2 separate regions of the Homo sapiens genome follow, and region 1 is linked to region 2. Evidence: fine-mapped expression QTL. Tissue or cell type: visceral fat. Region 2 holds a variant in brackets; the other region holds the start of a gene. All regions are shown on one strand. Distances are from middle to middle.

Region 1 (15,363 bases), 22 kb before region 2:
CTCCCATTCACAATTGCTACAAAGAGAATAAAATACCTAGGAATACAACTTACAAGGGATGTGAAGGACCTCTTCAAGGAGAACTACAAACCACTGCTCAACTAAATAACAGAGGACACAAACAAATGGAAAAACATTCCATGCTCATGGATAGGAAGAATCAATATTGTTAAAATGGCCATACTGCCCAAAGTAATTTACAGATTCAATGCTATCCCCATCAAGTTACCATTAACTTTCTTCACAGAATTGGAAAAAACTACTTTAAATTTCATATGGAACCAAAAAAGAGCCCGCATAGCCAAGACAATCCTAAGCCAAAAGAACAAAGCTGGAGGCATCACACTACCTGACTTCAAACTATACTACAAGGCTACAGTAACCAAAACAGCAGGGCACTGGTACCAAAACAGATATATAGACCAATGGAACAGAACAGAGGCCTCAAAAAATAACGCCACACATCTACAACCATCTGATCTTTGACAAACCTGACAAAAACAAGCAATGGGGAAAGGATTCCGCATTTAATAAATGGTGCTAGGAAAACAGGCTAGCCATATGTAGAAAACTGAAACTGGACCCCTTCCTTACACCATATACAAAAATTAACTCAAGATGGATTAAAGACTTAAACATAAGACCTAAAACCATAAAAACTCTAGAAGAAAACCTAGGCAATACCATTCAGGACATAGGCATGGGCAAAGACTTCATGTCTAAAACACCAAAAGCAATGGCGACAAAAGCCAAAATTGACAAATGGGATCTAATTAAAATAAAGAGCTTCTGCACAGCAAAAGAAGCTATCATCAGAGTGAACAGGCAACCTACAGAATGGGAGAAAATTTTTACAGTCTATCCCTCCGACAAAGGGCTAATATCCAGAATCTACAGGGAACATAAACAAATTTACAAGAAAAAAAAAACCCTATCAAAAAGTGGGCAAAGGATATGAACAACCATCAAAAAGTGGGCAAAGGATATGTCACAAAAGAAGACATTTAGGCAGCCAACAAACATAAGGGAAAAAGCTCATCATCACTGGTCATTAGAGAAATGCAAATCAAAACCACAATGAGATACCATCTCATGCCAGTTAGAATGGCAATCATTAAAAAGTCAGGAAACAACAGATGCTGGAGAGGATGTGGAGAAATAGGAATGCTTTTACACTGTTGGTGGGAGTGTAAATTAGTTCAACCTTTGTGGAAGACAGTGTGGCAATTCCTCAAGGATCTAGAACCAGAAATACCATTTGACCCAGCAATCCCATTACTGGGTATATACCCAAAGGATTATAAATCATTCTACTATAAAGATACAAGCACATGTATGTTTATTGTGGCACTATTCACAATAGCAAAGACTTGGAACCAACCCAAATGCCCATCAATGATAGACTGGATAAATAACATGTGGCACATATACACGATGGAATACTATGCAGCCATAAAAAAGGATGAGTTCATGTCCTTTGCAGGGGTGTGGATGAAGGTGAAAACCATCATTCTCAGCAAAGTAACACAGGAACAGAAAACCAAATACCACATGTTCTCACTCATAAGTGGGAGTTGAACAATGAGAATACATGGACACAGGGAGGGGAACATCACACACTGGGGCCTCTCAGGGGGTTGGGGGCTAAGGGAGGGATAGCATTAGGAGAAATACCTAATGTGGCATGATCTCAGCTCACTGCAACCTCTGCCTCCTGGGTTTAAGTGATTCTCGATTCTCATGCCTCAGCCTCCCGAGTAGGTAGGACTACAGGTACATGCTACCATGCCCGGCTAATTTTTGTATTTTTAGTATACACGGGGTTTCACCATTTTGGCCAAGCTGGTCTCGAACTCCTGACCTTAAGTGATCCTCCCGCCTTGGCTTCCCAAAATGCTGGTATTACAGGCATGAGCCACCGTGCCCAGCCTCTTTTGCATTTTCTTTTACAAACTTTAGAATTATGTTGTTAATTTACATGAAAAAACATTTGGAATTTGATTGGGAGTACATTGAATTTCTACATCAATTTAAGGAGAATTGTAATTTTTACAATATCAAGTCTTCCACTCCCTGTTCAAGATATAGTTTTCCATTTACTTTGAGTTTCTTAATTTAAAGTCTGGTACATAAAAGTTTTAGATGTCTTTTGATAGATTTAATCCTAGGCATTTGTTTTTCTTATGTTACCTTAGGTAGCATTTTTCATGTTTTTTTTTTTTTTTTTAATTTGAGTATAGAAATACAATTGACTTTGGTGTGTTTACCTACCTTGATCCAGCTCTATTTTTTTTTTTTTTTTTTTTTTTGAGACAGGGTCTCACTCTGTCACCCAGGCTGGAGTGTAGTGGCACAATCTCAGGTCACTGCAACCTCTGCCTCCCAGATTCAAGCAATTCCCCCACCTCAGCCTCCTGAGTAGCTGAGACTACAGGTGTGCACCACCACACCTAGCTAATTTCTGTATTTTTAGTAGAGAAGGGGTTTTGCTATGTTGGCCATGCTGGTCTCAAACTCCTGACCTCAGGTGATGCTGCCTGCTTCAGCCTCCCAAAGTTCTGTGATTATAGACATGAGCCACCATGCCCAGCTTTAACTCATTTATTCTAAGGTATACTCTAGTTTCTTCAGAATTTTATATACATACAATTTATTATGCATAAAGATGAGAATTTATTTTTTTCCTTTTCAATCCTTTTACTTACTATTTCTTTTTCTTGCCTGACTAAACTAGCAAGGGCCTCCCGTAAAAAGGATGACCAGAAATGATAATAGTAAACATTCTGGTCTTATTACTGATCTCAACAGAAAAGCTTTATTCAGCATGCCACATTAAGTATGATTTCTGTAGATTTTTATGGTACACTAATACTTGATATCAGACTGAGAAAGGTTTGTCGAATAAATTTGCTAAGAGGTTTTGTTATGAATGGATATTGAATTTTATGAAATGATGTTCCCATACTGAGTGATAGGGTCATACCGTTTTCCTTTATTATTCCACTAATATGATATATTACAGTGATTGATACTTGAAAAGATAGCTTACATTCCTGGAATAAACCCAATTTGGTAATTATTTATTAATCTTTTTTACATTTTGCTAGATTCTATTTGCTAATCTTTTGTGTAGAAATTTTGCATCTGAGTTCATAGAAGTTATTTTTTTATCTTTGTCATGATGTCTTTGTTAGTTTTTCCTTTCTAAGTATACATACTGTCCTCAAAACATTAGTTAAGGAGTGTTCCTACTTTTCTGTTCCTGGAGGAATATATTGGTTTAATCCTTTTTCTTTATTTAGAGACAGGGTCTCACTTTGTTGCCCAGGCTGGAATGCAGTGTTGTGATCTTGGTTCACTGCAGCCTTGAACTCCTGGGCTCAAGCAATCCTCTTACCTTAGCCTCTTGGGTAGCTGGCACTACAGGTGCATGCCACTGTGTCCAGCTGATTTAAATTTTTTGTAGAGACGAGTTCTCACTATATTGCCCAGGCTGGTCTTGAACTCGTGAGCTCAAGCAATCCTCCTGCCTCAGGCTTCCAAAGCCCTAGGATTACAGGCATGAGCCACCACCCCCACGCTGTAATTCTTAAATGTTTGATGGAATTCATTCCACCTGGCCCTGGACTATTCTTCATGAGACAGGTATTTTTGCAGACTCCCCTGTGAAAAGAATGGAAACCTTGAGAATCTTCATTGTCCAAGGACTTCTGAGAGGTAGAACAGAGATAGAGAAAGGGAAAGAGAAGGAGAGAGAGAGAGAGAAAGAGAGAGAGAGTGAGAGCGAGTGAGCAGTGGTGTCATGTGGCATTTCAAAATGCCTGGCATTTTCCTAAAAGTACCCTGCCCAGTCCCCAACCCCCTAGCCATACAGCCCGACCCAGCGGGCTTGCAGGGTGACTGATTTCGTGAATGTCGGTTCTCAGGCTGCCAGGCTGCTGCTTCTCAAGGATGACCCAGACTTAGAGAAGTCTCTGGTGTCAGGCAGAGGACACTGGGTGGGGGACAGGAGGAACTGCTCAAAACAGACAGAGGCTCTTTGTTTGCTTTGCTTCTGTGTCAACTGGGCAACATTTGGAAACAACAAATATTGGTTCAGAGGCCCACTGCTTTCTTACCCACCTCCTGCTGGTCAGCTTTTCCAGCTTTCCTGCACGTACACACAAGCGCAGCTATTTCTTTAAGGGCCAACTCGTGGTTGAAATTTGAGAGTTTTGCCCTGTTTGCGGTGAAAGATTTGGCTCATGCTTGGGTTGGTCTAGAACTGGAAGCTTCCTTTATGTCCTCTATCAATCTCTTTCTCTTTCTCTTTCTCTCTCACCTCCCTCCCTCTCTTTCCTCCCCCACTAAATAAATAAAGAGAAGGTCAATATCAAGAAGGCAGCTGTGGTCTGGAGAAGGGCAAGATTTAGGAAGTTTGAGTTCAGGTCTCAGAGCTCCATGAATAAGGACCCATCATTTGACTGTAATGACCACATGTGATAAATGGAGGTACTGATCTTATCTTGCATGGCTGCCCCAATGATCTTGCCCCAGGACAGTGCCTGACACATACAAGGGGATAAAAACATGATATTTTCTTCCAGCTGAGCATAATCAAGCCAGTCCATGTCTAAGGATCTGCAGTTGGTACTCAGACCTCTCCCAGACTGACCAGCCCCTGTGCTGGCAAAGCCCTGGGGGCTGTGTGCTTTTGGAGAAATGGCAAGGCTGGGAGTCTCATGTCTGTCCCTCTCTCGGTGTGACCCCAGATGAGCTCCTTGGCCCCTGCATGTCCTGGTTTCCTGGGAGAGGCAGTGTCCCTGGTGGATGTGTACACTCTGGAACCAGACTGCCTTCTTTTGTATTCTGACTTTGCAGCTGACCTTGAACAAGATATCATCCTCTCTTGTCCTCAGTTTCCTTGTCTCATCTGTAAGATACAGATGCTAAAGCACCAAAGTCAGAGGGGTATGGTAAGTGCTCAGTGAAGCTCCCAGTAAATCTCAGCCATCATTAAGCTATTAAAAGGGACAGTGATTCTCCAACTCCAGAACATCTCTGGTATAGAATTAAAGAATATAAATGAGAGCACAGGTACAAGTGTCATGGACATGGAGCGCTGTAATGTTAACCTCTTACCTTCACATGCTCCTATAGACATATACAGGCATAGGCACCCCATACAGCTAGGGCCATGCACACATGTACACCCCAAAGCTGGCCTCACCCCTGCCTACCCCATCCAAGGAATGGCAAGCACGAAGCTCTGCTGTTGTCCTCTTGAGCAAAAGCCAAGGCCCTGGCCTCTCCATCTAGGTGTGTGTAGATGACGTGGGAGCACCAGTTCTCTATGTCTTGTCTGAGCTTCCTTCATATCCCATGAGGCTGTATATTTCCTTCCCAGCACCTGTCTTGGGCTTGGACTCAAAGGACCCTTCTGAGGACAGGGCATAGAGCTGGCTGCTCTGGAGAGGACTCAGCCTGGCCAGTAGGTAGTTGCTCCCTGCTGAGGGGCTCTGGCTAGGCTATGGGCCTGTGGCTGGAGGACTGGCCTCAGCGGGGCTTAGTCTACGAATGTAGATGGGCTCCAGAAAAGGAGAATCACTGACCATCTTCTTTCCATGCCCTGCGTTGAGCTTCCCTGAGTTTGTGGCATGGGCTCAACCTTTCGTAACTGCACTTCCTGCTCTCTGGCAGACCCTGCAAGCTTACTACAGGGCCTGTCCATGCATCAGCTGTATGTGTGCATGCTGCTCTGCTGGGTGCCTTCCAGTTAGCCTTGCCCCTGACTTTTCCTGCTCATCTCACATCCTTACCTCAAGGTCTCCAAATGAATCCAGACCACTGCCTAGAGCCTGCTGCAGGGGCAGTAGGAATATGGCCCTCATGCTAACAGTCTTCTTTCCCTATGGCTCAAGCACAAGGGGCCCGTGGACGGGCAAGGGGGGAGTAAGACAGGGCAGCAGTGGTCACTCTCCCTCGCTGGTGAGGCTGATGTGTTGGGAAAGCCAGACTTGACTTCTGTCCTCACTGTAAACAGAAAGCTTCTGTAGTGGACTCTAAAGTGGGAGGTATGTAACCCCTTTGCATATGAGATAATCTTTTGGAGTGTGGGAGAACATAATCTAACTTCCAGTTATATTTATTGTTATTGCAAAAGATTAACAAATTATCATTCATTCATATTGAATGTGTGAATTGGCCCTATCTCCCACCTGAGTCTGCAGTCATGACAGATGGAGCCTTTCAGGTGTCCTAAGGGAAGATGGGGTTCACCTCACAATGCTAAAGGTGAAAAGGGGAGTGCCGACCCTGCCCTTTGTTTTGGCATTTTTATTTCCATACTTTGTGGTTTGTATGTGCCCAGTTAAACGGATGTACAGATTAGATAATCTGGCTTTAACTCCAACCTTCACGAGATGCACACATGCCTTAAAAAGATTCTTACAAAGAAACTAGAATTAGGAGACAATTCTGACAACACAAAAACAAGTGAACAAAAATCAAATGACTGACCTGACGTGTCCACTAGGCTTGATATGAGCTTGGTCAACTAAAACATGAGACAGAATGAATGACCATCTGGTCAGGTTGGATAAGAAGTAACTTTTGGCAAAATCTCTGAAGTCTGGATTTACACTTCGTGGAAGGAATCTTGACCTTTCCCCAAGTATATTATGCCTTGAGATAATAATCCTGTATAAGGCCGCATAAGCAAAACGACATTTGAAAATGAGTTTCATCTTTAGCTCATCCTTTTACAAATTTCTATTCCTTGTGCATGATTGAAGTGTACACATTTTTTAGTTAAAATATAAGCATATAGAAGGCACAAGTTCAATATTTTTCATGATAAGGATGTGTAATTAAACTGGTTAGGAGACTCATCGACTAGAGGGGGACATGGTGGCCCCAGGCTGTAAGAACAGGCCACACCGTCCACTGGGCCGCTTGCTTTGTGCTAAGATGACACTTTGTTCTGAGCCTCACAGTGTCTTGACCATGTTCCTGGAACCTTCTTGTTGGAGGGAGTTCATCTTCCCCTATGACTCTGTCCCTAGTCTAAGGTGTCCCACAGGAAGCTTGAGGGCGGGAAGTTTTCCAGCCCAGGAGCCTGAGCTCAGCGGGGCAGGAAGAGGGAGCAGCTCCTCCGTGGGGGACCTTTGAGAGCCCAGGAGCAGGATTTCGAGGGACACCTGGTGGGGAGCAAAAGGTGCTGAGTCTGTCTTTGACCTTGAGCCCAGCTTGTTTCTCCTGCATCCTCCCCCAAAAGGGGCTTTGCCTGTCATTCTGCAGTTCTAGTGTGGGGTCTGGGCGCAGTTCTTTTCCCTCTCCAGCCTCGGAGTCTTCCTCTGTGGACTGCGCAGATAGGACTGGTGGCACGGACCAGCTCTGCAGCCCTGGAGTCAGGAGCAGAGCCCCCCGGCTCCCAGCCCGCCGTAGCCGCTCCTGGCACCGAGCGAGCCGCGATGACAATGGCTGCATTGTGCTTCATGTCCCTTCCCATCAACATTTCTGTGCTGGACTCCTTCCACTCGCGGGTCGTCTCCAGAGCTCAGAAAATGAGGTGATCAGTGGGACGAGTAAGGAAGGGGGGTTGGGAGAGGGGCGATTGGGCAACCCGGCTGCACAAACACGGGAGGTCAAAGATTGCGCCCAGCCCGCCCAGGCCGGGAATGGAATAAAGGGACGCGGGGCGCCGGAGGCTGCACAGAAGCGAGTCCGACTGTGCTCGCTGCTCAGCGCCGCACCCGGAAGATGAGGCTCGCCGTGGGAGCCCTGCTGGTCTGCGCCGTCCTGGGTGAGTGCGGGCACGGGGTAGCACCGCAGAGTCGCTGGCCCGCGCGTTCCCTGCAACCCGGGCGGCCACCGCGCAGCCTGCATGCACTCCGCGCTCAGGCTGGAAGCCTGGGTGTCTGGGTGCCTTTCCATTGCCTCTCTACGCCCCACCCCTGGCCTTTGCTTGGGCTTCTAGACACCTTTCACTGCACTCACTGTCTTCTCCCCCTCCTCCTCTTTGTCCAGTAAATCTTGCAGCAGTGAAATACAATAAATCAGAGCACGTCTAACCAGGTTATCAAAACCCTTTGCTGCTGCCTCTTGTCAAGTCCGAACTCCTTAGCATGGCATTCAAGGCCTCCCGGGTCTGACCATTCCCCTTTCAGAGGCTGATGTCCCCTGGGTGCCCTGGGAGCTGTAGATGTCCTGCCAAGGAAGCGGTGCCATCGAGCGGTCAGAGCATGGGGTTTGAAGCCAGACTTCTTGGATCCAAGTCCTGGCCGGCTCCTCACCAGGGAGGGGGTCATCACAGCACTTGCCTGGGAGGGTCAAATGAGGGTCAGCGAGGTGGCAGATGCTGAGTACCAGTGGCAGATGTTGCACACATCCTGCTATGGGGCAGTGGCTGACGCCACACTCCCCGACCTCCTGAGGTGGGGCCCCCTTCATACTCTAACTTCTGCCTGCCATTCATGGGGCATTTGTCACACTGTTGGGGCTTCCACGTTTAGTTTTCTCTCCCCATAAGCTAGCAATTCCTTGAGAGAGGACCCCACGTTACTTGCCTTTATCCCCGCACAGAGCACTTCACAGGCTGTGCAAGGTAATGCTCCACTGAGGACACATTCTCGCCTATGGGAACTCTGGAGGCAGGGCTTTGTGGAGGGGCTGCCACAGGCTTATGTTGCCTCCTAGGATTTCCCATGGGCCAAGAGGGAAAATGGGGGTCGCTGGGGTGGCCATCCCTGGTGGCCCCTCCTCATGCATCCTGGAGAGCTGTGGGCCTCCTCTCCACAGGCTTTGTGGATCTTCTTCAGAGCCAGTGAGTCAGCCTTGCTGTGGTGGCCCACAAGGAGTGGAGATGACAGAGGGCCTTGGGGACAGGGCAAAAGCTCATGTGATAGGGATGCTGTCTCTGCAACCACATGGATTTTAATAGTTACCCATGGCTGGCTTCAGCTTTTTTTGTGAATGGCAGCCAAAAAGTGTGGTGAAAATGGAGGGATAGTTCAGTGGAGACAGAGGGGAGACTGTTGAATTTGTGGAGTTTTTAGTTCTTCCTAAACAGAGAGCAACAGACAAGAGTTACAGACAAATTAATTCTTTTCGTTAATTTACCCTCAACTACTGGCCAAGAAGGGGTGTAACTCAGAATGTTTTCTTCTTTTGTGCCCTGAGTAGCAGACCCAGAGTCTGGAGACCCAGATTCTAGGCCTGGCTTGGCCAACGACAAGCAGGGTGACCTTGGGTTAAAAAAAAAAAAAGGCATCATTCTCTGAGTCTCACTCCCTCTTCTCAAAAAGATGGCAATTCCTCCCCCGCTGGTTTTCCATAGTTGAGGTAGCAAGCCAATGTGTTGGGGTAGCTGAAAACGCCCTGTGCATACTGAGGCTTATGTTCCATGGGGGGCCAGGGGCCAGGACAGTGATGGGAGGAGACAAGGCGGATACAGAGGAGCAGATTGTCATCTCCAGCTGGGAGGTGATGGCCATGCCTGCACCCCTCTGGCCAGCAGAGGGTGGTCAGTAGGAAACTGGGAGGCCATTAGGGCAACCTTCTATTGGCTCAGACTCAGAATGCAGTAGAACTTGTGCCCTGTAGTGTTCATGGACAGGAGTGAGAGGAGGACAGGACTGAGGGGATGTGGCTGTCAAGGCCTTTCTAGGGGCGATGCTGTCTCTCCCTCAGCATAGGGAGTGGGCCCTTCCACCTCTGGCCTCTCTCCCCCAGGGCTGTGTCTGGCTGTCCCTGATAAAACTGTGAGATGGTGTGCAGTGTCGGAGCATGAGGCCACTAAGTGCCAGAGTTTCCGCGACCATATGAAAAGCGTCATTCCATCCGATGGTCCCAGTGTTGCTTGTGTGAAGAAAGCCTCCTACCTTGATTGCATCAGGGCCATTGCGGTAAGTCGCTGCTGCCTAAAAGAGAGTGGAAGAAAGCCATACTTTCTCTGTTTCCAGTCACTTTGGAACAATTCTTTACTCACAGGTAGGAGGCTGATATATGGGGCAGTCAACCTTGACTTACTAAAATCACTTCAAAAGTGGAAATGGGGAGGTTTTCTTTAATGTGTCTGGAAAGCAAAAGTCAAAAAGCACATTAACTTTTGCTTTCCAGACACAGTAGACGCAAGGGTGACTGTTTTGAGACCCTAGGTTCTCTGAACTTGGCGAAAATATAAGAATGCCTGCTATCAGGCTGGGCGCGGTGGCTCATGCCTGAAATCCTAGCACTTTGGGAGGCTGAGGCAGGTGGATCACCTGAGGTCAGGAGTTCGAGACCAGCCTGGCCAACATGGCGAAACCCCATCTCTACTAAAAAATATAAAAATTAGCTGGGCATGGTGGTGCATGCCTGTAATCCCAGCTACTTGGGAGGCTGAGGCAGGAGAATCACTTGAACCGGGGAGGCAGAGGTTGCAGTGAGCCAAGATCCTGCCACTGCACTCCAGCCTAGGTGACAGAGTGAGGCTCCATCTCAAAATAAATAAATAAATAAGAATGCCCACTATCAAAATTATTATATAACCTTCTTTGGCAGCTTTTGATACACAACTGGGAAGATGAGTGATGCATGCAGGGGGAAGAGTAAAGTGTCCTGATTGCAGGTGACAGCTGATCTTTTTGTTCTTAGGTCTACAAAAATGCTCTTCATTCTTTCAACGTTGCCCCTGCCCATCTGTACATGTCAGATCCTGTGCTGGGCAATGGGGCTGCAGTGGTGAATTAAACACATTGGTCCTTACCCTCAGGGAGCTCATGGGCTAGTCAGGAGAGCAGAAAAACACACGAATAAGTAAACTACTAATTCCAAAATGTGGGGATGTACAATGGAGGGAAAAAGGAGAGTGTTCTGACAGGGACTCACAGAAAAACCTGCTTTGTCCTGGGTGGTCAGAGACCATCTCTCTGAGAGAGATGTAATGAAGGACTGAGCCTGGGTGGGCTCCAGTGTAAAATACACCAGGCAGCAAACAAGAGCATATGCAAAGGGCCTGAGGCAGAGCAGAGTGGGCTTATTTAAGTTGCTAGTGGGAGGCCAGGGTGATGGGAGCTGTCAAAGATAAGCACAGCCAGATATTAGTTTAGGCAGTGACAATAGGTTTCATTCAGTAACTGCTGACAGTGGGGGAAAGAGCTAGGCTCCATTCTGATTTGTGCAGTGGTGATGTGAGCATTTTAAAGGGAGAATGAGGGAGGGGAGAACGCAGGGCTCTGTAGAGTCAGAGAAGTAAAAAGGTAGAAAGGGCTGGTCAGTGTAAATGTGAGGAGGCCAGCTGTGTCTGATAGCTGGCAGTTCTCTCGATTAGGACTCTATTCTCCCGCAGAGACTGCGAGACAGACACTCTATCCATCCTGATGATTGTGTTGCAAAGGAATGGCTCTCAGTCCTTGAGAGAGATGCTTGTGAGTTTCAAGAGATACATATTCACAGTTTTAAGTCCTTTTTAGTAAATTCTCTTGGAAAGGGAGGTCAGGGGCCTATCATCAGTTGTGTGTTGAGTAGAAGAAACAGGTACATTTTCCTGGCAGCACTGAGTTTTCTCAGGCAAGCACTTTAAGGGGAACCGGGCCATCCTAGGGACACAGATTTGTTCTGCTAGGAGCCATGCCAGAGTCTGGTCAGGTCTCTTAGTGCAGAGGTTTGGACAGATGTGTCAAGTGTGGGAAATTCTACAGTTCTCAGCACAAAGCAAGCAGTAGGTTAGCCGAAGGGAAAAGGTGGAAGAAACATCCAGATGCAGCCTGGCTTCCCTCAATCCCCGCGCTGGGGTTTTCCGTGTCTTTCTGCTGGCTTCCCCTTGGCTTCCCTCCAGCCTTCTCTCTGTAGCTTTCCCTCTTCTGGGTTTGGTTATTTTGACTTGTGAGAGCTTGCTTGATTATAATCCTGTCCCTCCCAGCTGGCGCAGGTTCCCCTGGGAACCCTGCAGCTCTAGGGCTGGACGCTGTGTTTTAGGCCTTAGCTCTTTGGCTCCCTGAGCCCCCGAGGCACCAGTGATTTCTTGGTGTCTTGGCAAAGAAAGACCAGGTTCCTGACCACTCTCCCAACCCCACTGCAATGGGCAAAGCTCTCGTTTGTTTGCTTCATTTTTTAAAAAATATATATATATTTTATTATACTTTAAGTTCTAGGGTACAAGTGCACAACATGCAGGTTTGTTACATATGTACACATGTGCCATGTTGGTGTGCTGCACCCTGTTTGCTTCATTTTTATTCAACAATGTGAGGACTGGGGAAGGGAAGGTGTTTGCAGATTAAACAAAACCACGAAGTGTGTTTCATATATAAGGTCTAGTTGTTGTGGAACAGAAAGGCCCATGATGTCTGTTAATTTTGTTTTGTATTGTGGTATATTAAAAATATGTTTTACAACCCAAATATCCATTGATGAGTGAATAGATAAATAAAATGTGGTAAACACAAATGATGAAATATTTTTAGCCTTAAAAATAAATGAAACTCTGATATATGCTACACTGAGATGAACCTTGAAAACATAAGTGAAGCAAGCTAGATACAAAAGGACAAATATTGTAAGATTCCACTTTTTTTTTTTTTTTTTTTTTGAGACGGAGTTTCGCTCTGTCGCCCAGGCTGGAGTGCAGTGGCGCGATCTCGACTCACTGCAAGCTCCGCCTCCCGGGTTCACGCCATTCTCCTGCCTCAGCCTCCCGTGTAGCTGGGACTACAGGCGCGCGCCACCATGCCCGGCTAATTTTTGTATTTTTAGTAGAGACGGGGTTTCACCGTGTTAGCCAGTATGGTCTCGATCTCCTGACCTCGTGATCCGCCCGTCTCGGCCTCCCAAAGTTCCACTTTTATGAAGTATCTAGAATAGTCAAATTTATAGAAACAGAAAGTAGCATAATGACTACCAGGGGCTGGAGTGGGGGAGAAATAGGAGGTAATTGTTTAATGTGTAAAGAGTTTCAGTTTCTGGAGATGGATAGATGTGATGGCTATAAAACAACGTGAATGCATGTACTTAATGCCACTAAAATGTACACTTGAAAATGGTTAAAATTGGCTGGGTGCGGTGGCTCACGCCTGTAATCCCAGCACTTTGGGAGGCCGAGGCGGGTGGATCACCTGAGGTCAGGAGTTTGAGACCAGCCTGGCCAACATGGTGAAACCCCATCTCTACTAAAAAAAATACAAAAATTAGCCGGGTGTGATGGCAGGCGCCTTAATCCCAGCTACTTGGGAGGCAGAGGCAGGAGAATCGTTTGAACCCTGGAGGCAGAGGTTACAGTGAGCCGAGATTGAGCCATTGCACTCAAGCCTGAGGGACAAGAGCGAGACTGCTGATATAGTTTGTCTTACAACATATTTTATTTCATTTAGAAATACTATTGTCTTATTACTTGATTGTAACACAACAAAGTTCATGGAACTATAGCTTTTGCTTTGTAATTTTTTTTTTTTTTTTTGAGAGTCTTGCTCTGTCACCTAGGCTAGAGTGCAGTGGTACAATCTCGGCTCACTGCAACCTCTGCATCCCAGGTTCAAGCGATTCTCCTGCCTCAGCTTCCCAAGTGGCTGGTATTACAGGCATGTGCCACCAAGCCCAGCTAATTTTTGTTTGTTTGTTTTGGTAGAGACAGTGTTTCACCATATTGGCTAGGCTGGTCTCGAACTCCTAACCTCAGGTGATCCACTTGCCTAGGCTTCCCAAAGTGCTGGAAGTACAAGGTATGAGCCACTATACCTGGCCTGCTTTGTAATTTGATCAATAAGAAATCTTCATAGAGAACTGGCAAGGGCTTCTGGAAAAATCATTTTGATTAAAGACATTTAAAACAAAAAAGGAGTAAAACTATGTGTTTAAGTGTCTAAATAAAAGATGGTTGGGCTCACTTTAAGGATTTACATAAAAAGAAAATAAATTATAGATCTAGTAAGAAGGCAGCTATAATATTTCAAGGGACCTGTTGATGTAAAGATGAGGGCTTACAGAAGCACAAAGTCAAAAAGGAACATAACCTGAAGTAACAGTGTAATGATAAGAAATAAACCCGGAATGTCTGCACTGAAATCCCAGCTCCATGACTTACTGGCTATGTGGCCCAGGGAAGTGACTTAACCTTTCTGTGCCTCATATTTCTCACTTGTAAAATGGAGCTGAGAGAGAAAGAGAGATGAGCTGCCCATGTGTTGGAGTAGACAATTATACCAGAGATGAGCAAAAATGGAAATAATAATCAAGCTTTTGATCATTCAGTACATAGTATCACCAAGAAGCTAAACCCAGAGAAAGTGCCCAATCCCTCAGCAAAAGGGTCATGCAGTTTTATGGACCCAGGACAGGAAGGAAGAGCATTGAGTACTGAGTCAGAGTGAAGACGAATGTTTTCAAGGTTCCCATCTTCCCCCAGAAAAAAAATCTCCACAGAAGCACCTGAGGAAGACCTCAAAGGAAGTCTCAAAATAAAGAGGGCTCTGAGCAAAGGTCATGGGCTAGGAATGAAAACAGGTGTAAGAAGAGCGTGGCCAGCCCAAGAGAGCTGTGTCCTTGACAGCAGAGTCCCCTCCAGAGACTGCATTGCACTGGCTGTGCTCTGAGTCTGGGGTGGCGAGGGCGGCTTTCTCCCACGGAGCCTGCCAGGTTAAGCCTTCGTAATTGCCTACGGTAAAGTCACGTAGGATTTTTGGCCAGGAGCTGGGCACCTCACCGGGGAAAAGAGAAACACAATCCATCACTCCCTCTATGCAGAAGGAATAGGAATGTGGTGGCTAAGTGCCCTTGCGAGGGAGACAGAGTCAACTGAAGCCAGCAGGGCTGTGCGTGGTCTAGTCAAGTTCTGGCCCTGGGTCCGTGGAGTCCTGGTAGCCACTCTCTACTTGTGTGGGTTGAGGTGGGCCTTCCTTGGAAGTCAAGGCTTCATCCAGGACTGGCCTGTTCTCTTTCAGGCAAACGAAGCGGATGCTGTGACACTGGATGCAGGTTTGGTGTATGATGCTTACCTGGCTCCCAATAACCTGAAGCCTGTGGTGGCAGAGTTCTATGGGTCAAAAGAGGGTAAGTTCTCCCTGGGACCCCAGGAAGGAGTTGTCATCCTTATTCTATATGCTGAGTGCTGTGTTTTACAGGCAGGTTTTGGATATCAGATATAATGAACATTCATCTTTGGAGAGTGAGTAGAGAATGAGGGGCCCTGTCAGCTGCCACAGCCACACATCAAGGCCTCTGGGGGCTTTGGGCTGGCTGAGGACTGGTGCTCCTAAAACTGAGCCCTGGGCCAGGGGCATATGCTTATCAGAGAAACACAGCAGGCTGTGTGCAGCTTGACCTGAAGGCTACTGCGGTCTACTGATATGTCTAGGGTCCCTGGAGGCCTCTGGAGCCATAGGTACCACTCACACAGGAGGGGTCACTCTG
Region 2 (15,363 bases):
GATTGCTGGATAGGTATGTTTCATGCATAACATTTAGTTCATAAAATTATATGCTACTTTAGGAGGTCCAGGGCCCATGGATTAATGAAACAAAAGTAACTAATCTCATTGCTAGTAAAGAATTATTGGAAACAAAGTTGAAAGACATAGTTTATTTGGTCCCACACCTGTGACACATCATCACTGTCAATGGGAAGCCACTGACCTGTCCCAATTTCCCAAGGTTGTTATCATGGACATCATGGCTGCAGTAGAAAGTGAAGGTGAGTGTGGAAAACAGATCCCAAAGTGACCAGTGCCCTCGGTTATTGCAGTAATCATGTTCATGAGTAGACACACAGGACTTCCAAAGGGAGTCATCATCTCGCATAGAAACATCATTACTGGTATTACTGGGATGGCAGAAAGGATTCCCAGACTGGAGGAGGAAGATGACTACATTGGATATTTACCTGTGGCCCATGTTCTAGAATTAAGCTTTGAGCTTCTTTGTTTTTCTCATGGATGCCTGCTTGGCTCCTCTTCACCCCAGACTTCAGTGGATCAGTCTTTAAAAGTAAAAAATGGGCTGCCCACTGTGGCATGCAGCTGTAGTACCAGCTACTCAGGAGGCTAAGGTAGGAGGATTGCTTGAGCCCAGGAGTTTGAGTCCAGCCTGGGAAACATAGTGAGACACCATCTCAAAAAAATAAAAAATAAAAAAATAAAAACCAGAAGCAAAGGGTGTACTTCTGGGTTGAGACCAACACTGATGGCAGCTGTTCTGGAAATCATGGATCAGATCTACCAAAATGTCATGAATTAAGTGTATGAAATCAGTAGTCTTCAACACAATCTGTTTATTCTGGCTTATAATTATAAAATGGAACACATTTCAAAAGAGCATAGTACTGGATTGTGTGACAGCTTTGTTTTCTGGAAACTGTGAAGCTAGCTAGGTGGAAATATTCAGCTTTTATTGTATGAAAGTGCTCCACTTTCTGCAACACGCAGCAAGTTCATGAATACAGACTCACTGAACCTACAGGGGCTGGAACAATTACAGATGTGTGGATTACAAGACTGGCAGAAGTGAGAGTCCCATTAGTTTGCTGTGAAATTAAATTAAAGAACTGGGAGGAAGGTGGATACTTTAATACTGAAAAACCACATCCCAGAGGTAGAATTCTTATCGGTGGCTAAAATGTGACAATGGGATGCTACAGAAATGAAGCAGAAACAAAAGCTGATTTATTTGAAGATGGAAATGGACAGAAGTGATTATGTCCTAGAGATGCTGAAGAGTTTGATGGTTGTTTACAGATGATCGATCATAAAAAGGACCTTGTAAAACTACAGGCAGGAGACTATGTTTCCCTTGGGAAAGTAGAGCCAACTCTGAAGAATCTCCCAGTAATAGATGACGTTTGTGCATTTGCAAACAGTTAATTGTTCTTATGTCATTGGATTTGTTGTGCCAAATCAAAAGGAACTAACAGAACTAACTTGAAAGAAAGGACTTACAGGAACTTGAGAGTAGCTCTCTAACAGTTGTGAAACAGAAGATGAGGTGCAGTAGTCCCCCTTTATGTGAGGTTTCGCTTTCTTGGGTTATACCTACAGTCAACCGTGGTCCAAAAATGTTAAGATATTTTGAGAGAGAGAGAGAGCACATTAACATAACTTTTATTATAGTATGTTATAATTGTTTTATTATTGTTGTTGTTAATCTCTTACTGTGCCTAATTTATAAACTTTATCATAGGCTTGTATGTATAGGAAATAAACATTGTATAGGGTTTCAGGTTCCAAGACTGGGGGTCTTGGAACATATCCCTTGAGGATAAGAGGGGACTACCATACGTAAAGTACTTTCTGAAGCTGCTATTTGGGCGTGTCTGAAAAAGTTTGAAAATCTATTAAAAATTGGTTTGAGCCCTGACCCATGAATCCTGAAACTGGTCTGGTGACAGGTGCCTTCAAGCTAAAACACAAAGAATTTAATACACATTACCAGGCAGACTCTGAGCGAATGTGTGGAAGAAATGATTTTTCTCTTTTGGCATCAGTTTGCTACAGTGAGCTCAAATCAAATAGGAAATTATTTGAAATGCATGTTTCAAACTGTGAGGCAAACTCCATTCTTCATATTCAACCTAGATTTTTACTTCTTAAGACATCACCATTTTCAACAGACAGGATTAGTAAAATAGTAGGAGAGCAAACTTGTGTCTGTCTTTTTCCTTTTCCCCTCCTACAACTACCTTTACCTAACCTGTGACTGTATTGTCAGTATAAGGAGTTTTCTGAATCATAGTGAGGAAGCAGATTTCTAAAACCTCAAGTTTCTAAACATGACCTATATATTCAGTTTATGTTTAAAGTTTGGATGTGTAGAGGGAGTTATGGAAAATATATAAAGTGGCTGTTGGGGGGTGCTTTTTAACTTACAGTATTAAAAAAATGCAAGGCTATTGATGTGAAATTACATACATTTCAAATGCTTATGAATCAAATCATTATTGAGGATAATATTTGCTGATGTGTAATTACTATCTTGCATGAATTAAGAGAAATAAATATAGCCATACTTACGTTTTAAAGAAAAAAATGATATTTTAAGACTGATATCTATTCCATAGCATGGATGTGCTTCCACTTATTTAGCTATTTCTCTGTCATTGAGCATTTAGTTTAATTTTCTTTTTGCTATTATAAATCACACCTGTTATTTTTGCCCACTTACACATTTTGTCCAAATAGTTGCCCACCAATCTGATTGTTCTTTTATGGTTTATTACTAGAAAGTATATTGCCAGGCCAAAGGGAAATCTTACAAACCTTGTTGAATCTAAGCATCTCTGAAATTTGGGGCTTACTAGAGCTGAGATTTAGAACATTTGAAAATATTTGACTCATTCATTAAACATGTTGTATGCACCAAACACGGAAATAGCACTCAGCCAAGGAGGCTGACATTAGAGGCTAGAGCCCCCCTTCAGAAGGTGCTGTGTTCCACAGCCACAGCCACGAGTCCCTGACTCCACTCATCCATCTGCACGTGAGAATTCTTGGTGTCAGAAATGTGTCGTAGGAGTGTCTCTGGGACAGTGTGTCCTACAAGAGGGCAAGAGGACTGAATGTGGGTCTTTGCTCTTGAACTAGGCACCTGGAGTTGATGATCAGTTCATGATGGTTGGGTGAAAATGAGAGTACATTTGATTTTCTCTGCTGAGTGTGCCTGGCTGATCTTTTGGGGGTTCAGTATCAGCATCTGCTATCTCCCTGGCATTCATGTGCTGGAAAGGCTGCTTCAAGGAAACAGCTGGAAAAGTGGGTGGCACAGGAAACAGCCTCTTTTCATCTGCTGTGATTTGCTGTGTCTTTGCAGAATGGAGAAGCTGATGCCATGAGCTTGGATGGAGGGTTTGTCTACATAGCGGGCAAGTGTGGTCTGGTGCCTGTCTTGGCAGAAAACTACAATAGTAAGTGGTGGGGAGCACCTCTCTGTGTTTTCTTCCCTCAGGGCCATGGAGAGAGGAGATGGAAAAATCACAGTCTGATTCATACCACAGCTGCCATAAAGCTTTCCCTCTCTGAGCACCTCCTACTTTGCAAGCTCTGGGCTCCTTCATCTCAAATCCCCACAGTCATCTTGAAGGTTGGGAGTTATAGTACATTCCAGAAATGGGAAATGAAAGTTCTGCACTGGGAAGTCCTCACTAAAGATGACCCCATTGCAAAGGACAGCTGGGATTTCTGGCAGTCTTCCAGGTTCCAAAACTCACACTTCTCTCACTGCCCTGTTGCTAGGATTTAAATATAGTTGGCTAGCACGCCTCTGTGGTCTCAGTGCAGACAGAGCAGGAAACTTGACATTCGCAGTTTGTGGATAAATTCTAGAGGCCAGGAGGTGAAATGGACTTGCATGATCCAGAGAGTCTGGACTTGTTGGGAATTGATGACATGTATAGATAATTTTCTCTGACTTTCTTTATTCTTAGCTGCAGCATAAAAAAAAGGCATGGTTTCCCAATCTATAAATCAGGGTTTAATGCCTTTTTCATTTTCTTTTCTCCTGCAGAGAGCGATAATTGTGAGGATACACCAGAGGCAGGTGAGTTTGAATTGGTAACCTCTGGAGTTAAAAGATAAATTCCCATTGTTTTGGGGAATTGGTTAGATTTAAAATTCAAGTATATAAGGTGCTGTAAGAGACCAATTTTCACAATGCGAGAGAATCATGGAAGGATAGTAATGGATAATGATGGTTATCCCTTTACACTTGCCATGGCTTGCACACAGGATTTTTCATTTAATGCTATAAGGTAGGTTTTGGCATCCTCTGAGGATACACAAGTGGACCCTAAGCTGAGGGAGTTTACAGACAGATCGTCTAGGATTATACATCTAGGAAGGGAAATCCAGGTCTTTCCCACTGATCCTCACCTGACATGACATGAGGCCTGCACATTTTCAGATAAGAGTAAGCACCAACCAAGGAACTTTGCTTATTTATTCCTTACAGGGCTCAATAGAGAGCCTCACACAGGCAGATATCAAGGAACATAAAATTATCTGACCTTCTAGCCAGGGCTGGGTCCAGGAACCCAGGCCAACCTGGCTTCTCACCCAGGGCTCTGGGTAAGGGTACATCTGAAGAAACAGAGCAGGAGCAAGTCAGGAAGTCTTACACCAAGGTGAGCACTGGCCCCCTATGCTCAGGCCCCTGCAGGTCACATTCCAGACAGCCATTACTGTACAAGTCTGTCCTTGCCACTTCCACTGATTATAACCTCCCAGCCTCTCCCCATCACTTGGGGAGCTAAGCCCTTCAGCAGATATAGAAAAAGCCATTCTTATTCTATGGATAATAAAGATTCTGTTTTCTGTTGGAAACTGTAATCTGAATTAAACTGGCAAACTGAAATCATAGGTTGATGTTCTATTTCCCATTTTAAGGACCAGTATATATTTGCTGCTGAAAATGGAAGCTGACTTGATATTGACATTTTCCATTTTGCATATTTATTTTGGTATAAAACTATATTCTCCTTATCAGAAAATGTTTGGCTCAGTTTTTTCTCTTTTGCTTATTGATCTTTTACTACTATATCTCAACATATGTTAATTTATGAAAGTTTGTGGTTACATTAGCTGTTTCAGTATCCATTCCTCTGATAGGACTCATTGGATGGTGAATTGCTGGCTTATAACTTCAGTGACTTTATGCACTTAGGGAAGGGTTATACACCCAGCCATTGATCTAATGATGGTGTTTTCACAATATTTTGTTTTTAAAGTTCAGATTAATCTTCTCCTGACAGAGTTCCTTGTACTTCCCCTCAGTCAGATACTGGGAAGATCCTCTCAAGACACAATGACTGATTGAGGATATCTTTGCTTCCCTAGGGAAATTGATTGGAAGCAGACACTCTGGAAGCCCCAGAGGTGTTAATACATCCTTTTCTGGTGTCTTTCTTGTAGGGTATTTTGCTATAGCAGTGGTGAAGAAATCAGCTTCTGACCTCACCTGGGACAATCTGAAAGGCAAGAAGTCCTGCCATACGGCAGTTGGCAGAACCGCTGGCTGGAACATCCCCATGGGCCTGCTCTACAATAAGATCAACCACTGCAGATTTGGTGAGTGAATATTGGGAAGGAGGGCTGGTGAGGGCCATGCCAGAAAGCAGGGTCCTGCCTTAGGGAAGAGGAGTGTGGCATAAGGTGCTGTGGGCTCTGGTTCTAGAGAAGTAGAATTTGGTCAAAGAACAGTAGAATTTGCTGTCCTCAAGGACATAGCAACAAGGGCTGGAAGGACTGGAACTGGGTTGCTGAGTTGGGACGGTTCATTTAGGTTGAACATATTAGCATGAGTGAATATACATTTATCTCTCAGGAGAAAGACCAGAGGTGAGCAGTGCATGGCTGGTATGGTCATGAGAAACCCAGGCTCCTTCACACTTTCTGCTCCTCTATTCTGAGCATAAGACTTCCATCTTCAAGGTCACCCCATGGTTGCCATCGCATCCATGATCCAGGCAGCCCCAGTCACCAAGGGGTTACAGCAAATGGAAGTTTATGCCACCTTTTTAAAGGAGCTCTCTAGGAAGTCTAACCAGTTATTTCAGCAAACTTCTCATTGCCCAGAACTTAGGTACATCACCATACCTAGCTGTAAAAAAGAAATGTAATCGTTCATCTGGAAATGTCCCTACCCCAGATAAAACCAGATTTTTGTTACAAAGTACAAGGAGAAACAGATATTGGGTAGACAGGTAGCAATCCCTGCCACAAGGTTTTGTATGGTATGTGAGTGTGGGAGATCCCGGGTCTCTTCATGGTGTTGGCAATCTCACCAAGTCCCTACCCAGCTCCTAGGACCCTTCTAAGCAGTAGAAATCACCTCATTTTCTATGTCCTCTGAATACCACCAGGTATGAGCTTATTTCTACCCCGCTTAAACTTTTAAGTGTAAGTTCTCCTACAGACAGATGTTTTCCAGTGGTTCTGATTTACATTAGCTTCCTAAGTACTTTGTCCCTGCCACCTCCAAATTTGGGCAACTCTTTAAAAAAGAAAAGGCCTCTAAATCTGGTTATTAACCCAGAAAACCCTGTGGGGTCAGGGAAGTGGTGATGAGAGTATGCCTCTGTACCAGGGTGCTTTGTGACACCACTTAGACATGAAGCAAAGTGTGGCCAAGGTGACATTCAGAAAACTCAGGATCCCCACTGACAAAGGCACTACCTCTGCCCTCCTGAACCTCCTAGCACTTTTATGGCCACAGGAGAGCAGCTGAGCTGCAAAGAAAATTCCCCATCCCTTTCCTGAGGTTGGAGATGTAGCAAAGGCTCTTCTAATGAATGGCAGGGAATGGGGACATCTGAAAACAGGTGGCACAAGCTCAGGAAGCAAGACCTTCAGTCTTCATCTTTTTCTGTTCCCTTTCATGACATTTTTCATCTCTTCTTTGTTTAGCGTAGTGATGACATCATTATTGTGCTCAAATAAATCCCCTCTGCCCTGAATTGTAATGGTCATTAACTCCTTTTCCCAATCTCAATAGGTTCCCCTTTAAAGCCTATAGCCTGGCAAGTCCTGGGTTGGTGGTGGCTGGTCACAGAATTAATGAATATGTTCTACTTATTATGGGCCATGCAGCCCTGTTATCTCTTAAATAAAAGCTGCTTGCATTGACTCAGGAAAAGCTGACTTCCTCTTGTCCTTCTGCACAGATGAATTTTTCAGTGAAGGTTGTGCCCCTGGGTCTAAGAAAGACTCCAGTCTCTGTAAGCTGTGTATGGGCTCAGGCCTAAACCTGTGTGAACCCAACAACAAAGAGGGATACTACGGCTACACAGGCGCTTTCAGGTGAGTCTTTTAACCCTGAAACAAATAGAATAATATACAAGCCCTGGCCAGATTTCTTTTAGGAACTAAGGTAAGATTCTTAGGTTCCTATTCCATTAGTGCGGCATGTATTAAGAGAGTATATTTCACAACCAGATATAGAGCCACATGGGGAGGGGCAGCCAGACTCCCCCAGGATGCTGACATGGCTGTCAAAGACAGCAGAGACTTGTGTTTGGTACAGTTTAGCAGTTGTCAACGGGTGATTTGACCCCCACGGGACATTTGGCAATGTTTGCATATATTTTTTATTGTGACAATGTTGGGGTGGGGGAGGAAGTGCTACTAGCATCTAACACGTAGAAGCCACTAAACATTCAACAATGCACAGGATAGCATGGTACAACAAACAATTATCCAGCCCCAAGTGTCACTAGTGCCTCGGCAATGATACCCTACTGTAGTTGAATAAACACTGAGTGGAGAGTTTGGCTCAAGCTTTTCCATGCACCTCTGGATAATCCAGAACAATACTCATCTGGAAATACAGAATAGTACATGATTCCTAAATTCCTAACTACAATTGTACTTTATGGAGTGCCTATCATTCATTTTCATAGAGATACCTGTGTACCTTGCTATTTTTTTTTTTTTTTTTTTTTTTTTGGAGACAGGAGCTCTCTCTGTTGCCCAGGCTGGAGTGTAGTGGCACACTCATGGTTCACTGCAGCCTCAACCTGCTGAGCTCAAGCGATCCTCCCACCTCAGCCTCCCTAGTAGCTGGGATTACAGGCATGCACCATCACACCCAGCTAATTTTTGTATTTTTTTGTAGAGACAGGGTTTTGCCATGTTGCCTAGGCTGGTCTCAAACTCCTGGGCTCAAGCAATCCTCCTGTCTTGGCCTCCCAAAGTGCTGGTACTCACAGGCGTGGGCCACGTCTGGCCCTACCTTATTACTTTTTAACTACCCATTCTGCTTTAGGCCTTCTGTTATTTGGTGGTTCATGAATCCATGAACTGCACAATGATGATGGTATTATAACTGAGCTTCCCCGTAATGATGTAAAAAACAAAGGTCATTCCTATTTTCCAGTTAGAGCCACTTTGTAAGTTAGATTAAGTACAATTCACATTCCCCAAGTTTCTAATTTCACAAAGTAGAGCATGTTGTTTTCATAAAGATTGAAGAGTTTGGGGGACTTAAAATAGAGTTCCCCTTTGCATTTTTGTACCTTGTCTTTTTCTGGTGATAACATATGTTTGAGAATTATAGGTCATGAGAAAAGGCTCAAATAACATGTATGTATAAACATGCTTAAAATAAATGTGTATAAAGGCTTCTTTTTCTAAACATGTCTTATAAAACTTAGCTATGAAGTAAAATGTACCAGACTGATAAAAAGACTCCAAACTCCAAAGAAAATAAAATTAAATCAATATGTGGCACAATAGGTACCCCGTCTTCTCAGCTAGCTACCCCCAAAACTCTTGAACCGATGCAGTAATAGGCAGGTTCTTTTCCTTGAAGCAAGGGGATTAAAGTACATGGAGAGCAGGGTTCAGTCCATTGTCCAAAAGTCCAACCCACTCGGCTCATTGAGGAGGGCCTTGTGTAGATTTTGAAGTACACACTAGTTCATCATCTGTGTGGTATGCCCTTTCAAAGGACTGGAAGACAGTCAAAATTAAAATTAGAACCCTACTAACCAGAGTTTATTTTGTTATTATTTCTTTTCTGAAACTTCTTGGGGACTTGTAGCTCAGAGCTGTGTTACAACCCCCATTACCACACCCAGAGATATGTGGCCTGGGAGTTAGTAGAGTCAGGTGCCTTTATGCCATGTTTTGCCATATTCTCTGCATTTCTCAAAAACAAAAACAAAAAAACCCACAACATAGCAAATGCTCCATAAATGTTAAAATTCTTTTTCAAAGGAATGAAGGACAGCACAAATTGCAATTTGTGATGGAGTTTCAGTCTCTCACAAATGTTGCCTAGACATTCGCCTTGTATGAGAACCTGAAGGAACTGAGTTTTTCATTCATATGCTGGGGGAGGCATCACCTCACTGAAAATCAATTCCCTACTATCCTTGTTGATGTCAGGGAAATTATGTCATCTCTCAGAGAAACAGTACAAAAAATTAAGATTTAGTATGTGGAACTGAGATTGTAAAACTACAATCAATTCAGAGTGTTTTGTTTTTGTTCTCTTTATTCCTTACATTGCTTACTGTTAGAATGGAAGTTACAGTTGCTGTTTTCAGATGGCTGTCCTGAATCTATAAGGTAGCCCCCTGAATGACAGATAAGTCACTCTGACCGCCTTTTTTTTTCTCTCCCACTTCTGGACCTCTGCAGGTGTCTGGTTGAGAAGGGAGATGTGGCCTTTGTGAAACACCAGACTGTCCCACAGAACACTGGGGGTAAGTGCACCTGCTCCTCTGTCCCCCTAGATCACTAGATCCTGGTCACTGGTATTCACTTGTATTCAGGGATGCCTTTGTGGAAGTATTATGTACACTGTCAGACTTCAAAGCTCTGATTCTCAGTCTGTCTGCTCAGTGAAGAGAGACATGTTCACCTGAGTGCGCAGAATGATCAGGATTATGGGGCCCCCAATGGCCCTAAATCCTCCCCAACACACACTCCCACAGCTGCAAGCCTTGTGCTCCTTTCCCCTAAATACTTCAGTGCCTATTTCCTAAGAATAAGACAATCTCTTGCATACCCACAGTATGATTACCAAGATCAGGATCTTTTACATTATGTGGATTTAATACTCGTCACGTCCACAGTCCACATTTAACTGTTGTCAGTTATCCCAGTAATGCCTTTTATAGCTATTTACTGTACTTCTGGGTTGTGTCCATTGAGAAGGCCTAGAGGCAATGGCATACCAGCAGGAGTAAGCACCAAGATATTGGCTTGTAAGTACTCTTCTTTACTAAAAGGAACCAGAACTCCTTGGAAAAATAGCTGACTTCAGGGCTGGGGCAGGAAAAATAGATGCTGAGCCTAGAACAACACACTGAAGTGCTCAAACAGTGATGGGACACTCAAAGCATACAAGAACCAATTTGAAGGATCTCCTGTTGCCAAGTCTGGGAATTTTGAGCATTAAAATAAATAATGATAGCAGTAAGGGATAATAGCCCATTGAAAGAAATAAGAATGCATGAGGCAATACTGATTAAACAAATGAAGAAGGGAAAACTAATCAATGTGGAAGGAATGATAGAGTTAGAAAACTATCACTTGGCAACCAATATATTGATAACTGATTCAAGCAAGAATCAATGGGTGTTAAGCCGGGCGCAGTGGCTCACGCCTGTAATCCCAGAACTTTGGGAGGCCGAGGCGGGTGGATCATGAGGTCAGGAGATCGAGACCATCCTGGCCAACAAGGTGAAACCCCGTCTCTACTAAAAATACAAAAAATTAGCCGGGCGCGGTGGTGGGCGCCTGTAGTCCCAGCTACTCGGGAGGCTGAGGCAGGAGAATGGCGTGAACCTGGGAAGCGGAGCTTGCAGTGAGCCGAGATTGCGCCACTGCAGTCCGCAGTCCGGCCTGGGCGACAGAGCGAGACTCCGTCTCAAAAAAAAAAAAAAAAAAAAAAAGAATCAATGGGTGTTAACTTGTGGGTGAACGTTGGACAGCCATAATATTAATAAAAACAAACAAAACAAAGCAAAACAAACATTGGCCAGACTGAGCACTCCACACCTGACCCCTCAGTATCACTAAGTGCTAGCAGAGCCCACTGGAATTCAAGCTGTGAATACTTCCCTGCCTTCTCTCATGTTCATTCCCCAACTCCTCACTTTTCCTGGGCAACTCATCCAGAATGAACCGGCTCAGCACCAGCCCCTCCAGGAAGCCTTCCCAGATGGCATACCCTGTCCTACAAGAAGACTCCTCTGTTCATATTGCCATTATGATTGAATTCACCACACTCTGTAATACACTTTGGCTACAGAAACTCTTTGAGCTCTTTTTCTTCATCTTATATTCCCAGAACCTAGTGTAGCACATAGTACACAGCAGTTGCTAAGAATTTGTTTGCAGAAATATTGGGTTGACTAATTTTCCTTTCTTCCCTCGTATTATTGCTTTTTCCTTTAAGAGAGTGTTACCCTAAGCTTGGCTCTTTGCCACCCTTGATTTCTTTTGGTACTTTTCTGAGTAGAGCTCCCTTCTTTAAGCTTTGACTCTCTTACTCTTTGCAATGACTCAAAAATTCTTCCCTCCTGCATAGAATTAAGATAGGAGGCCTGACATCCAATCTCAATTCCATTCCAGTCTATTTCCCAAGGTGTCACTTTTATGTAGAGAGTACATTGGCATTGCAATTGTATTTTTTTACGTGTGTATATGGATGTCCTCATATATTGTAGTTGTATATATACAATCCATATACAACTCAACTGTCCTCATCTTTCTGTCAACGTTCCCTCCTCTTCTCCCAGCCTCTATCCTTATAGAGAATCCTGCTATACTCCCTGCCCATCAGGCCTAGATTAAGTCTGTCAGTCAATATCTTATTTCTTCAAAACGTGTCTTTTTTCAAACTAAATTT[TGAAATA/T]ATTGTGTGTATTTAAGGTAGACAACATGATTTTTAAGAGCCAAAGTAATTTTGATGTATTGTAAGTTTGGGAACTACTGGTCTAATACCCCTGACTTAATATCACATTCCTGATAAATATTACTAAATGTAAGTCACATCATGTCTGATTCATCATACTTATATTTTGCACCTTCTTACCTTCTTCTGTTATTAATTTGTTGCTTTTTCAACTTATATTTTAGATTGAGGGTACATATGCAGGTTTGTTACATGGTATACTGCATGATGCTGAGGTTTGCGGTATGATTGAACCTGTCACCCAGGTAGTGAGCATAGCACACAACAGGTAGCTTTTCAACTCTTGCCCCCCTCTCTCCCTCCTCCAAAATCTGTCTTAAGTGCTATGGTATATACAAGAAGGAAGACACAAAACCACGTGGGCTTTTTTTTTTTCTTTTTTTTCTTTTTGAGATGGAGTCTCACTTTGTTGCTAGGCTGGAGTGCAGTGATGTGATCTCAGCTCACTGCAAACTCCGCCTCCCAGATTTAAGTGATTCTCCTGCCTCAGCCTCCCAAGTAGCTGGGACTACAGGCGTGCACCACCACGACCAGCTAATTTTTGTATTTTTAGTAGAGACGGGGTTTCACCATGTTGGCCAGGATGGTCTCCATCTCTTGGCCTCATGATCCGCCCACCTCGGCCTCTCAAAAGTGCTGGGATTACAGGTGTGACCCACCGCGCTCAGCCCACATGGGCTCTTTTATCACAATTTGTGTGTGTGTGTGTGTGTGTGTGTGTGTGTATGTGCATATTATAGGTGTGTGTAGGAAAAAGAATGTTAGAAATGTACCAATTTTGAAGGCGTAGACTATGAAATTACAAATGCTTCAAAATTTTCTTCCCAATACTTACGTGGCATTTTATAAATTTCCACCAATAAACGTGTATTATTTTTATTGAAAAAGCATATTTTTAACATGCCCTTCTAGATGCCCTCCTAGCCAGACTGAATCACCTCCCATTTGATTTTTCTTAATTTTCTACCTTTAGGTTCTGGCTCATTCATTAACATCAATTTCCATTCATAAGTCCTCACAAACCCACTTTTCCTCTTGCCTGAGTGCCTCACATACCCTACTGCCTGAGATGGTTCCAGAGGCGGTCTCCTCTCTCCCTTAGAAACACCAGGCACACACCTGCCCCCAGTCTCGCCTGCACTCTCCTTTCCTCCCGCAGAGAGGCATTCCTTTCTCCTCCTCTCATCCTACACACACTATAAGAGACAACTGAAATCTTGCCTCCTCCAGCCAGCTTCTTAATTCATTTGTTCTCAAAGCCCTGGTTTGAGCTCACACAGCATCTAGAGTGTTTTACAAAATATAAAATATTATTATCCCTGCCCTGAATTTTTTGTTTTGGTATGTGTGTTATTTTCCCCTCCAATAAGATTGTGCCTTGGAGAGGGCTGAGAACATAGTATCATAGATAAATGAATAAAATAACATAAAATAAAATAAAAATACATATACCCTTTGAACTAACTATTCCACTTCTATGTAAGCACAATTATATGCCAGTAACACTCATTTTAACGCTACTTTAGTGGCAAAAAATTGTAAACACCTCAGATGCCTATTAAAAGAGGAATGGTTTAAAGATACTATTATAGCCACACTATGAAATATAATACAGTAGTTAAGAAGAACGAGCTTGATTTGTATGTACTGACAAGAAGAATCTATAAGGTATGTAAACAGTTGAAAAAAAAGCTACAGAGTTTTACATTTGTCAAGATCTAACACTAAACAAAATTAGAAACATGTGAAATCCATATACACACGTAGAAAAATACATATAATGAGCCGTGGATGGAAACTCGCAAATGTGATATTAAAGACTAGCACTATAAGACTGAGTGAGATTTGGAGAGTATAGGAAAGGAGGCTTTTAGTTAATATAGAGAGATATTCAAAAATTTATGAGTGTGATCTCATGTATTAGTTATTCGGTTAAAGAAACAAAATTAAATGAAAAATACATTTTTAAAAAGGTTGCAATTCTGAATTATGGGAGAGAAATAAAAATTAGCAAAACATATTTGCAAAGTGGCTCAGGAGGAAGGAGCTGAAACCCTAAGAATGGGTGAGTTTTTTTTTTTTTTCAGAGACAATACAGAAAAGAAGAGGCAAAGGGGCCGAGATGGGATACAGACCTGTATCACACAGGTGTGTGCACATTCTCATTTAGAACTGGAACAAGGGAGTCAGATTTAAAATTCTGGTGCAGATTCCAAAGGTGTTCTCTGAGGAAAAGTTCTTTTGTTTGGAGATGCCATGTGTTACAGCACAGAAATTGATCAACCTGGCTTAGAGCGTCACATTCTTCCTCTGTTGGAGCAAGAGGTACAGAAGGAATTGGAATTTAGTGGAATTGAAGATCTTTTTGAACAGCATCTGCAGAATGTAGTTCATTCTCACCTGGCTGGGTAGGGAAGGTTGGAAGGGGATGGTCAATAATCATTCCTGGTCACTGTGAGTCTGGCATCACCTTGTAGACCACATGGGTGTCTCTTCCTGTCCACATCACTGTAACCCCAGTGTGGGCACTTCTGCTGGCGAGAAGGCCCAGGTTCTCTACACACCACTGAGTCAGTTCCATCTCCCCAGCGGGGCACCTTGACCAAAGCCATCAGCTGAACCACCTTCTTCCTGTCCCTAGGAAAAAACCCTGATCCATGGGCTAAGAATCTGAATGAAAAAGACTATGAGTTGCTGTGCCTTGATGGTACCAGGAAACCTGTGGAGGAGTATGCGAACTGCCACCTGGCCAGAGCCCCGAATCACGCTGTGGTCACACGGAAAGATAAGGAAGCTTGCGTCCACAAGATATTACGTCAACAGCAGGTATGGACCAGCCAGGTCCTCCCACCTTTTCTTCCTAGATGGCCATAGGCTATTCGGGGGGAGTTTACAACAAAGTGCAGCCATGACTCCAGCACTTTCTTTTTGAAAACTAGAATTCCATGCATTGTGCATTTCATGCCATGCATTGTGGACTAGAGTATCAGGGTTCAAATCACAGCTCCACAGCTTCCTAGTTGTGCCATCTTGGGTATGTTACATAACCTCTCTATGCCTCAGCTTCCTCATATATAAAATTGTAATAATAATATTTTTACCTACTTCTCAGTTAACATGAGTATTAAGTGAAGACATGCACCCAAACGGCATAGGAAAATTCCATTTCCTATAGGACGTGCTCAAAATATGTTAGCTGTGTAATTATGGAACTAGACCTCTCAGGCCCAGCTCTGCTTCTAGCTCCTGGTCACTGGTGATTAGATCTGATCCATGTACTCTTGGGACTAGGAATCTGCCTTTCTGCTCCCCCTAACCTTGTTCAGGGGTACCCTCATTTCCCCTACTCCTGTCCTTCCCGAAAATGAAGAAGACAGCTCCTG

The links. PIP is the estimated chance that this variant, and not a neighbour inherited with it, causes the effect.
Region 1: it holds the start of TF, and the variant in region 2 is fine-mapped to the expression of TF in visceral fat (GTEx, PIP 0.97).

Annotation. Positions count from the first base shown.
Region 1 is chr3:133,738,701-133,754,063 of GRCh38, forward strand. TF (transferrin) reads left to right here and starts at 7,693. Exons shown (of 17, transcript NM_001063.4): 1 at 7,693-7,783; 2 at 9,712-9,884; 3 at 14,895-15,003. The coding sequence starts at 7,741.
Region 2 is chr3:133,760,812-133,776,174 of GRCh38, forward strand. It overlaps TF (transferrin), which reads left to right. Exons shown (of 17, transcript NM_001063.4): 10 at 3,371-3,464; 11 at 4,064-4,096; 12 at 5,467-5,622; 13 at 7,218-7,353; 14 at 9,697-9,761; 15 at 14,622-14,806. It also overlaps the pseudogene ACSL3P1. Among named protein-coding and RNA genes, the nearest start is that of TF, 22 kb to the left of the region's middle. The variant TGAAATA/T (reference allele first, on the strand shown) is at 11,915.